Regions from separate parts of the Homo sapiens genome. Here region 2 is linked to region 1. Evidence: fine-mapped expression QTL. A gene starts in region 1. The other region holds a variant in brackets. All regions are shown on one strand. Distances are from middle to middle.

Region 1 (5,358 bases):
GTCTGGGGGCTCAAGAATCCAGACGCCCACCTCCCCGAGCGAGCACCAAGACAGGAAGCCAACCTGCAATGCCCAGCCCACTGCGACCACAGGGCTCTGCCGGGGTCCTGCCGGAACCCAGGGTTCCGGTCCAGAAGCCAGGGATAAATGCCGCTTCTCCTATAGGGACAGTCAGAGTAGAGAGGGGGAGGCCTACAGTCTCACCTGCAGGGAGAGGAAGTCCTCGGGGCGGGCACGTGGGGGGCCTGACAGCTCCGAGCACACCCGGCCACAGTGACCACGGACTGCACACGCAGAAGCAGTCTGGATCCCACGCGTGGCTGTGCTGCCAGCAGACAGCACCCAACCTCCCATGCTCCTCATCACAGGAAAAGAGACCAGCAGCATCTCTGCCAGGCATGGTGGGGCCCCTCCGCCACAGCCTAGGAGTCCAGGCCACCCACCCTCACAGCACTGGAGTGCGTGGGTCAGTGAGGCCCTGGGACGGGCCTGCGGGCACAGGGGGACAGAGGGTTCGGGGAGGGCGGCGCAGCCCCACGAAGGGCTCCTCCCAAGCCTGTGTGGGGCCCAGGGGAGCTGCACCTCCGGGATGGGACAAGGCAGGGTCCTGGCTTTCATCAGCCACAGCACAGCTGCCACAGGGCACAAAAGGACGGCTGAGAGACGAGGTCCTCACCCACACCATGGGGAAACCGAGGCATGGGAAGGTTGGAGGGGGGGCAGCCAGGCTGGCGCCAAGATCACAGGCAGGCAGGCCTGAAGGCCGAGCAATGCAGCCACTAGGAAGGCATGAGTTGGGGTCGGGGTGTCCCCAGCCCTAGAGCCCAAAGCTGCCACCACTCCCCACCCCCAACATGGGTGGGGGCAGGGAGAGCTCTTCTTGGGACCAATCCCAAAACCATGCGCAGTGGGCCCGGCTGGAGCCCAGGCAGCAGGCATCCTCTCTGCCAGGGTGAGAAACTGGGCCCTCATGTCAGGCTGGAAGGGGGGTCTCCAGGTGGGGAGAAAGAACAGGAAGGAACAGGCCCCTCCCTCGAGGGACCCCGCACCCAGGCTGCTCCCTGAGCGTGGGGTGGGCTCAGCGCACCTGGGTCCACACAGGGACCTGGCAAAGCTGTATGAGGCTGTGGGAGGGGCTGCCGCTGGATGGGGTACAGGCCCACCGCCCCTCTGAGAGGACAGGGGAGGCCCAGAGCTGCTGATGCGGACTGACCGCCCATCTCACAGACGGGATGTAGGGGGCTCCCACCGTCCCCAAGGTCACAGGACTGGCCGGCCAGACCACACGGCGTCCAAGGCAGCAGAAGCCACGCTCGAGAGACACAGAGTGTTCTGGGCACTCGGGGTCAGGGGCATGGGGATCAAGCCAGAGCGGGAGTGACCCCAGCTCCCTCCAGCAGCGCAGGCTGCAGGTGGGAAAGGTAATGAGCACCTGCCCGAGAGGGTCACAGGCAGGGAGGGGTCTCAGAGTCCTGGGGAGGGAGGCGCTGATGGAATGATGGAATGCACACGACCCCCCACCTTCCTGTGAAAGACCCCACGGAGTCCCAGGCACACGAAGGAGGGCAAGGCTCAAAGCTGCAGGCCCGGGGGGCCCGAGCAACAGGAGGCTGGGCCCACGGAGGAAGCCCCTGCCCAGGAGGCCCTCCGGCCTCTCCCCAACCCTTGCAAAGCGCCTCCCGAATGGGCTGAGGTGAGCGAGAGGCAGGGAAAAGTTTGGGGGGACTTAGAGGCGTGCTCGGGATGCTCGCTCCCTGCTGAAGACCCCCTGAGGGATCCCTGCTGGGGGAAGCCCCGGGGCCAGGCTGCAGGAGGGCTCTAGGGAGGAACGTGGCCCCTCACCGGGGCTCCCCATCCCCAGAGGGGATGCACCGGAGTCCCAGCACAGGGCCGCGGGCCGGGGGAGACCCCACAGCCCCAAAACTCCTGCTCCCAGACCGGCAGCCGGCGCCTCCCAAGGCCACGTGCTCCCGCTGGGGGCTCCCGGCCCCGGACCCCCGGATGTCCCGCAGGCCCCGCGCCCCCCCGCCACCCCCGCGGCCGCCCCCTCGGCCCCAACAGGTGGGCCGCCCCCCACCCCCGGGCCGCCGAGCCCCGCCCGCCCCCGATGGGGCCGACCCGCGGGGCCATTTTGGGTTGGGGTGAGCACGGCGGGGGGCGGTTCGGGAAGGAGCCGGGGGCCGCGAGGGCGGGCGGGGGGCGCGGGGCCTGCGGGGCAGAGGGGCGGGGGAGGCGGCAGCGGCGGCGGGTGGGGGCTGCGGGCGGGTCGGGGCCGGGCATAAAGGCGGTGCGGCCTTACCTCCGACCCTGTACATGTTGGCGGCCATGTCCGGGCCGGCGGCGGCGGAGGGGCCCGGGGCGGGCGCGGCGCTCGGCGCGGGCGGCCGGGAAAATGGAGGCGCGATGGCGGGGGCGGGGGGCGCCGCAGGCGTTTAAAGGGGCCGCGCTGCTGCCGCCGCCGCCGCCGCCGCCGCCGCCGAGGCCGCCGAGGCCGCGCAGGGACGGGAGGGCCGCGGCGCGGGCGGGAGAGGAAGAGGAGGAGCGGCCGCGGGCGGCGGGGAGGGGCCTCGGGCGCCGCCGCCCACCGCACGGGCCGTTACCGACCCCGCGCCGCCCGCGGCCCGCGCGCCCCTTCCCGGACAGTTCCTCTCGGCGCCCCCGAGTCCTCCCCGCGCGCCGCTTCCCGGGTGGGCCCTTCCACCAGAACCCCCTGGTAGATCCTCCCCTGGTGCCCTGGGGGTAGAGGGGAGATCCTCCACAAGGGCCATTTCCCTGGTGATCCCTCCCTGTGCCCCACAGGTGAGTCCTGCCGTAGCTCTCCAGGGGTTCCTCCTGATGCTGGGGTCCTCCGGCATTCCTCCCTGAGCCCCCCAAGGGCCCTGAAGCTCAGCGGCCCAGCCCTGGCCTCGGGGTCCCCACCCCACACCTCCCTTCCAGGCCTAACCTTTGCCCCCGACACCAGGCAGGGCGTGTCCTTGGCCTTCGCCGCCCAGCCCGCGTGGCATCTCTGGACAGGTGGTCGTGCGCGCCTTGGTGTGGGCAGGCTCCGTAGCCGGCAAAGCCTCCCTGAACCGTGACCTGGTGAGAAGGCCGCAGAGGAGGTGCCTGTGCCCAGAGGCCACCTCCAAAGACCCCACCTGAGGCTGGAACCCAGCGCCTGCTGACCCCGCCAGCCCCAACAGGGCTGGAGTCCAGGAGCGGCCGTGCTCTTTCCGCAGTGAGGCAGCTGCCTTCTCTTCCCACCACCTGTCAGGATGCCTTCCCGTGTGTGCTTGTGCACAGGTCTAAGGAGAGGAGAGTCCAGTGAGTGACCCAGACGCCCCAGCCAGGAAGAGCATGAGGTGCGAAGGGGGCTTCCCAGATGGAGAGAAACAGATGGTCCCAGAGTGGCTTGGAGACAGGTGCAACATCAGTGTTGGGGGAGGTGAGCAAAAGGAGCTGTCTCGGGGTTCCAGGCTGCTGATGTGAGCAGCACCGTGGGTCTCTGTCCTGCCTGCTCAGATGCTGGAGGGAGCTGACATCTACTTGGGACATCCCTCTCTGTAGGACATGGAGCGGAGCGTTCAGGGCTATCAGGAGGGAGCCCCGTGGCCACGGTGCAAGATCTAGGCAGGCGGGACAGACATGGTCAGGATGCTGGGGACACAGCATGGGGAATCCAGCACACAGGACACCATCCAGGTGGGTAGGAAACAGCATGTGCTGGGAGGAAAGCCAGGTGGGGGTCCCAAGGAGAGCGGTGGCCACAATGTCATGGCTGCAGAGCAGACCAGTAAGGAAAGCCCCACCAGGGTTAGCACAGGGCCAGGAACCCGAGCTGCAGGGCGGTGCTGTCTCTGGGGAGAGAGGGCTATGGGTCCCAGGACACATCCTGCGGGCTGGGCTGCAGGGAACAGGAGCTGGCTTGCTGGTGATTGGGAGGGAAGAGCAGCCAGCCAGCGGCCAGGTGCAGGAGAGGGGCAATGACAGACAGGCAGCGTCTCTCCAGAAGGAAGGTGGGGCTGCTGGCCTCCCCTGTCCTACAGCCCCAGCCTACCTCTGTCTCCTCAGCAGGAAAGCAAAGCTGCAGCCTGAGATCTCCTTCCACCAACTCCTGGCATGGCCAGAAAGTTAGCCAGAAACACCAGAAAGTGCCAGGCAGCTAGGAAGCATGGGGAGAGCCCCCTGAAGCTGCGTGTGTAGTGCCTGCTTCCGCTGCCATCCCAGAAATGGACGAGCTTCACCCTGAGAACCCAGCCACACCACTGGGACACATCCTGACAGTGACATGCACACTCTTCCCTGGCCCCAGCCTGGAGAGGAGCCTCCTGAAGACACCAGCCTTTGCTCCTTCTCCCAGTGGGAGTGGAGAGAACTGACTGCTGGAGTGGAGACAGTCAAGGCTGTCCTTCTGAGGGAGCACAGCACAGGGTCTGGTGTCCCAGGGAGGCAATCTGAAATTCAAGCCAGGCCTCCCCAGCGGAGAGGACACACCCCTCACCATGCAGAGTGACGTTTAGTAAACTCTCAAAAGAGAGCACAGAGCCCCACTCCTCCAGCCGACCCATACTCTGCCTCCCCACTCCAGACCAGTGAACAAGGTGGATTGCCCTTAAGCCAGCTCAGAGGCAAAGTCCAAAGACCTCAGGTGAGTCAAACAATAAAAACAAAGAATTAAGAAGAATCCAGCTGGGTGCGGTGGCTCACGCCTGTAATCCCAGCACTTTGGGAGGCTGAGGCGGGAGGATCACGAGCAGGAGGTCGAGACCATCCTGGCTAACACGGTGAAACCCCGTCTCTACTAAAAATAGAAAAAATTAGCTGGGCGTGGTGGCGGGCGCCTGTAGTCCCAGCTACTCCGGAGGCTGAGGCAGAAGAATGGCGTGAACCCAGGAAGCGGAGCTTGCAGTGAGCCGAGATCATGCCACTGCACTCCAGCCTGGGCGACAGAGCGAGACTCCGTCTCCAAAAAAAAAAAAAAAAAAAAAATCCATCCACTCCATCCACTTAGTAGCAGAGCGAATAGACATTCAGGAAAGAGCTTTCACGTCAGAAAGCACTACAGAAGTAGTGGCATATCCCCGGAGGCTGAGGTGGGAGCATTGCTGAGAGGTGGCACGTGACCACATCCATGTCATTCAACAACAGAAAAACAAGTCATCGAGGGTGTGAGGGGCCGGTGAGAAACCCAGTATGGAAGAAAACACAACTGGGCTGAGCGTGGTGGCTCACGCCTGTAATCCCAGCACTTTGGGAGGCCAAGGCAGGAGGATCACCTGAGGTCAGGAGTTCGAGACCAGCCTGGTCAACATAGTGAAACCTCATCTCTACTAAAAATACAAAAAAATTAACTGGGTGTGGTAGCGCGTGCCTGTAGTC
Region 2 (5,358 bases), 43 kb before region 1:
CCACCTAAACCCCAGACCCTCAGGCCCCAGGGACGATCAGAACACAGGGAACAGGGTAGCGAGACTGGCAGGGAAGCCCCCGGGTGTGCCTTGAGGAGGCTGGCCCCGCAGAAGACAGGGCGGCCGCTACTCCGCACTGGGCCCCATCACGACCCCAGGAGCAGGGAGCAGCCTGGGTCCCAGTGGGTCTGCCTGAGCCTGGCACGGTGCAGAGTACCCCAAAAGGACAGTTCCAGGCCCTGGGGGGCTGTCCAGGAGCTCCCAGCTAGAGAAGGCTGGGAGCACCAGTGCATGAGCTTGGGTGAGAAGCTGCCTGCAGGCAGCATTGGGAGCCCCCCAGCACGCCTGGCTGCTCACCAAGATACCGAAGCACGGCTTCCAGCGGCTTGCGTACCGCCTGCTTCAGCACCAGCGGGCTCTGGGAGGCTTCGGGCAGCCGCGCCGTGCCTGCGGGGTACCACACGGTGTGAGGGGTGGGGCACCCCCAGGGGAGCACGGGACCCTGCCTGCGCCTTGACCTGGGAGCCCTCACTGGGCTCGGCCATGTCAGCACCGAGGAGGACGTGGGGCTCCCTGAGATCAGAACTCCCAGTGGGGCTACAGGCTGGGCCCCAAGGTTGCTGCTCTCTCCCCACCACCCGCAGGAACAGAGTAAGCGGGGCGTTGGGGTGACTCACACTCGGCCTTGATGGCCGCGCTGTTGATGGGCAGGTAGGGGTGCCGCGCAGCGTGCCACGGGCGCAGGATCTCACGGCACAGGCGCCGGGCGATCCGCGTCAGCTTCGTCGTGTGCAGATAGAAAGCCTGCCTGGTCTTCATGGCAAACTTGGGGCTCCCGCTGCTCCGGGCTGGGAGGCCGTGGGGACTCTGCGGAAGGGGGCGCAACCGCCCCAACACAGCGCCATGACCGGGGGCCGAGGACCCGCGTGGCCGACAGGCTCATGGCAGGCAGGGCGGGTGTCCCCCCCCTTACCATGTTACTGCGGTTTGGTCCTGGCCTCTCTCCATCTAACCGGGTTGGCATTTTCAAGCCACCATATTTCTTCCAATATGTCCAACAAGATGCGCAGAGACGACACTGCATGTTAGGGGGACCCCAAGAATACCACTGGTAAGACTGTGTGGCTACGGACAACAAAGTTGGAAATAGACGGATTCTTAAGCAGAACCAGCGATGTCAGAGTATTCCCCGCCACCCCCACGCCGGCCGCCCCCACCCGCCAGGCACCCCCACACGTTCCCCGAGGCTCTCCCAACCACACCCCTGGGACGCAGCCCCCATCGTCAGTGGGCCCCTTGCAGGCTGGGCCATGCTGGAGCCCTCAGGGCCAACGCAGGCACCACGGCCCACAGGCGGGCGTGCGGTGTGCCCCCGGCCATCCAGGGCACTTACTGTAACAGCTCTCGCAGGCCCGGCCAGCCCCAGGGCTCTGGCCCGGCGCCCCCGTGCCGTTCACCACACCGGCCTTGACGTTGTTGACGCTGATTTGGTTCGGATTTGGCTTGTTACTTAAAGAGGGAAAGGAGAGACGAGAGGAGTTGCAGGAGCACAAACCTCGAGGGCCCATGTGCCCAGCAGGCACCGCGGCTGACCACCCCTTGTCCAGAACCACGTCCTCGCACCCCTCGGCCTCGGCAGGGATCTTCCTTTCTCCCCTTTCAGTTCCTGGGAGCCACTGCTGAGGTCTGAGCCGTTCTCCAGGCCCCCGTGCTCCCCCTAGCATGGAGCCCAGCTCAGGGACTGAACCCTGGCGGTGTGGGCTGGAATCCCAATGCCCCCTTACTGACCAGGAGGCCAGGACGACAGAGACATGGCCACTGCGTCTGCAGCCAGAACCCCCCAGCCCTGGGCCGCCCTCCCGGGGGCTGCCCCAACTTTCCCAGCCTCTGAGCTTGAGTTTCCTTGGGACCCGCCTGGCCCCAGCACCCTGTGCCCACCCTCCCTGGCCCCCGGGGCCACGAGGACGACGGCTGTGAGGGCACACTTACTAGTTGGGAATATAAACTTGCTTTAACTTGCTCTCAGCTTCAGCTGCTTTCAAGCGTTTCTTAAAACAAAAGAGAAGGTCAGAGGTCAGCAGGCTAGGCCCAGGTTGGGGCTGCAGTGCAGACAGGCTGGAGGCTACGGAGAGGAGAGCACCACGGAGAGGACAGCCGGGCCAGGGACTCAGGAGTCTTCCTTCCCCTCCTGCTGCAGCAGTGCACGCCCACCTGCTGGGAGAGGATGGGGCGCAGGACGGGGAGGCGGCACACCCCGGGCACTGAGTGGCGGGCGGGCTCACCTGCTGCACGTATCTGTCGGTGGTCTTCCACATGTAGTAGTACTCAATGATGCTGGTCAGCGACTTCCACGGGAGCTGGGTGGGAGGAGGCGTGTCACACAAGCAGGAAGGGGCAGGAGGCAGGCACACCATGCAGGCAGGGGCAGGGCTGCGGCCAGAAGGCCACAGAGGGGGCGGGAGGCCAGAGGGCGAGGTGTGCTTGGTGCACGGAGGCCAGGCCCCTGCTGGCAGGCAGGTGCAGAGGGCAGCTGATGAAGCAGGTCCCCCCGCCAGATGCCAAAACACAGTGACGCCAGGGGAAGAGGAGCTGGCACAAGGTCAAGGTCGAGATCTTGCCGAGGTGGCA[C/A]TGACAACCCAGCCTCCATCTCAGCCTTTTTTTTGTTTGTTTTTGAGACGGAGTCTCGCTCTGTCACCCAGGCTGGAGTGCAGTAGTACAATCTCGGCTCGCTGCAACCTCTGCCTCCCGGGTTCAAGCAATTCTCCTGCCTCTGTCTCCTGAGTAGCTGGGACTACAGGCACCTCTCAACACACCCGGCTAATTTTTGTATTTTTAGTACAGACGTGGTTTCACCATGTTGGCCAGGCCGGTCTCGAACTCCTGACCTCAAGTGGTCCACCCACTTCGGCCTCCCAAATGGGATTATAGGCATAAGCCACCATGCCCGGCCATCTCAGCCATTTTTGTTTTTGAGACAGAGTCTCGCACTGTCGCCCAGGCTGGAGTGCAGTGGTGCGATCTCGGCTCACAGCAACTTCCACCCCCGGGGGTTCAAGTGATTCTCCTGCCTCTGTCTCCCGAGTAGCTGGGACTACAGGAGCCTGCCACCATGCCCGACTAATTTTTGTATTTTTAGTAGACATGGCGTTTCACCATGTTGGCCAGGATGGTCTTGATCTCCTGACCTCATGATCCTCCTGCCTCGGCCTCCCAAAGTGCTAGGATTACAGGCATGAGCCACTGCGCCCGGGCTGTGGCATGGATTTAAGAAACCTGTCTTATTAAATAAGGGTTCAGATAGTTCCTCAGTCTGGTCCACTGCATCTGGCAGGAAGGAGAGCGGGGCCTGCTCCCTCGACACAGCCCCGAAGCTGCAGCCTCCCATCCCCGCACCTGGACAGGGCCCCGCAGCCGCAGCCCCCCGAGACCGTGCCTGGGCATGGCCCCGCAGCCGCAGTCCCCTGAGCGCTGCCTCGCTAGGCATCACGTGGGCTCAGCACTGGGGTCTCCTCCGCTGGAACCATGTGCAGCAGGGTCTCCCTCAAATTCCGCCCTGGTCTGAGCCTAGTTGGTGAATTTTGTTTCTAGCCCTCGTCCTCTTGTCTGAACATGTTCTGCTCATCTTGGTTTGTTTTTAAGCCTGGAGAGATCCGTATCCGCCTTGGAGAGGCCGCTGGCCCCAGGGACAGTCAGGGACTCCTCCCGCCCGGCCAAGCTCTCCCCTTGGCCAGAGGCCCCCACACAAAGCTGCACTCCTGCCCCCAGCAGATGCGTCCTCAGGAGCCTCACAGCTGGCTGCTGTCCCTCCTCCTCTTCAGGTCTAGGCACCCTACCCAACCCCATGTTTGTTTCTTCCGAATTCCAGATGCGTCTCCAGCCTCTGCTGCGCTGGCCTGTGCGCTGCTGCCCGGATGGTGCTTTCATCAGATACTAGCCACCCCGCTGTGTCCCGGCCCCTTTGGGGCTCCTCCCTGCCCTGCCACAGTCTCCACCTCCCCAGGGCTGATGGTTGGGGGCCCCACCACCCCCACATAGGGATGCTCTTCTAACAGATTAATTTAGAAGTATTTTAGGAGGGCTGACGGTTGGAGGGTGGGGGTCCTGAGGTGGAGGTACAGGGAAGGGAGACCCCACGCCATGAAGACTCTCTAGGCCTGCTGCTGGGCTAAACTCACGTGAGACAGAAAACAAGGACATGAGGAGTCAAGAGGTTCAGCTTAGTCAAAAACAAAGCAAAACCAAGCCTGGGGCTGGAGGGGGCAGCAAGGAAGGGAAAGTCTCCGTGAGGATACCCTGGCCTCCGTCACCTGGGCCAACCCTTATCCTCATCACGCAATGGTGGCAGGAGCATGGCTCTCTATGCCCAGGCCCCACCAGCGCCCCCATGCCTGTCTGCTGAACCAGTGTGACAGGAAGGACTATGGCGGCCGAGCGCAGCTGAGACAGAACTCATGCAGCTCCGCACAGGGAATCAGGGTGCAGGACAGGCTCCCTCAGGGCAGAGTGGGATGTGGAGCCCACACCCCCGCAGCCTACCTGGAGATGGGCATGGCCAGCCACTCCCCCATCGCCACCCACGGTACTCACAAAATCTTGCTGAATGTCCGTGAAATCCTTCCCATATTTTTCCAGGGCTTCCTCGAAAAGGTTGGCCTCTGATGCAGACCACTCCTCCATCTCGTCCCTGCAGAGCACGGGCCCGCCCTGCGGCACCAGCGCCGAGATGGCCTTGGAGATGTCGTAGATGTTCTTGTGGAGAGTATCCATGGCGTGGAACTGCGGCAGGAGACAGCAGGGTCACCCGGGCCAAGGTGGCTTTTCCTGCACCTGTGGCACGGTACCCCCTCCCTCAGTACCTCAAGGATCCCCTACTGCAGGCCCAGCAGCACAACCCTCCCTGCACCCTCAGCACAGTCTGGCCGAGTTTGGGGTGGATAGGAAAGGCCAGTCCAGGTGGGACAGCACCTCTGCAGGGGTCCTGAATACCTGGGGCAGGTGCTGGGCCCTGGTAGGAAGAAGGGCGCAGCCACTCTGGGCCATGGGCCACCCCAGGTCTCACCTGTCCCGCCCTGGGCCCACTTACCAGGGTGATGTCTCGGGAGGCAGCTGCGGCGCTCATGTGCAGGCTGGGCTGTCGGACGGAGCTGCTGCAGTCCAGGGCCCGTGCGAAGGTGCCCACAGAGCTGGGGAAAGGAGATGCGCTGACCACAGTGTCGGCCAAGCAGGGACTCCCCACAGGCACACCGCTCCCCAGGCGCCAGGGACCAGCGGCCACGGGCAGCACGGACTCCCCCAAGGCACACCACTCCCCAGGTGCCAGGGACCAGGGGCCATGGGCAGCACGGACTTCCCCCAGGC

Alleles and levels. Positions count from the first base shown, and alleles are read on the strand shown. Sizes are in standard deviations (SD) of each study's normalised expression.
For the expression in whole blood of the gene that starts at base 2,536 in region 1, A is the high allele of the variant in region 2 and C is the other (large effect, 0.75 SD a copy in Lepik 2017).

What was found. PIP is the estimated chance that this variant, and not a neighbour inherited with it, causes the effect.
Region 2: its variant is the best candidate, but not a certain one, in a credible set for the expression of MTA1 in whole blood (Lepik 2017, PIP 0.77).

The regions. Positions count from the first base shown.
Region 1 is chr14:105,417,005-105,422,362 of GRCh38, reverse strand. MTA1 (metastasis associated 1) reads right to left here and starts at 2,536. Exons shown (of 21, transcript NM_004689.4): 1 at 2,300-2,536. The coding sequence starts at 2,327. It overlaps MTA1-DT (MTA1 divergent transcript), which reads left to right and starts at 2,624. Exons shown (of 2, transcript NR_125385.1): 1 at 2,624-3,341; 2 at 4,054-4,782. RefSeq lists enhancers at 1-323, 324-991, 3,670-4,339 and silencers at 2,443-2,702, 2,793-2,842, 2,873-2,972.
Region 2 is chr14:105,460,183-105,465,540 of GRCh38, reverse strand. It overlaps MTA1 (metastasis associated 1), which reads right to left. Exons shown (of 21, transcript NM_004689.4): 9 at 5,084-5,183; 10 at 4,588-4,776; 11 at 2,283-2,357; 12 at 1,990-2,048; 13 at 1,394-1,509; 14 at 974-1,125; 15 at 678-867; 16 at 358-447. Among named protein-coding and RNA genes, the nearest start is that of CRIP2, 12 kb to the left of the region's middle. RefSeq lists enhancers at 243-764, 765-1,287. The variant C/A (reference allele first, on the strand shown) is at 2,629.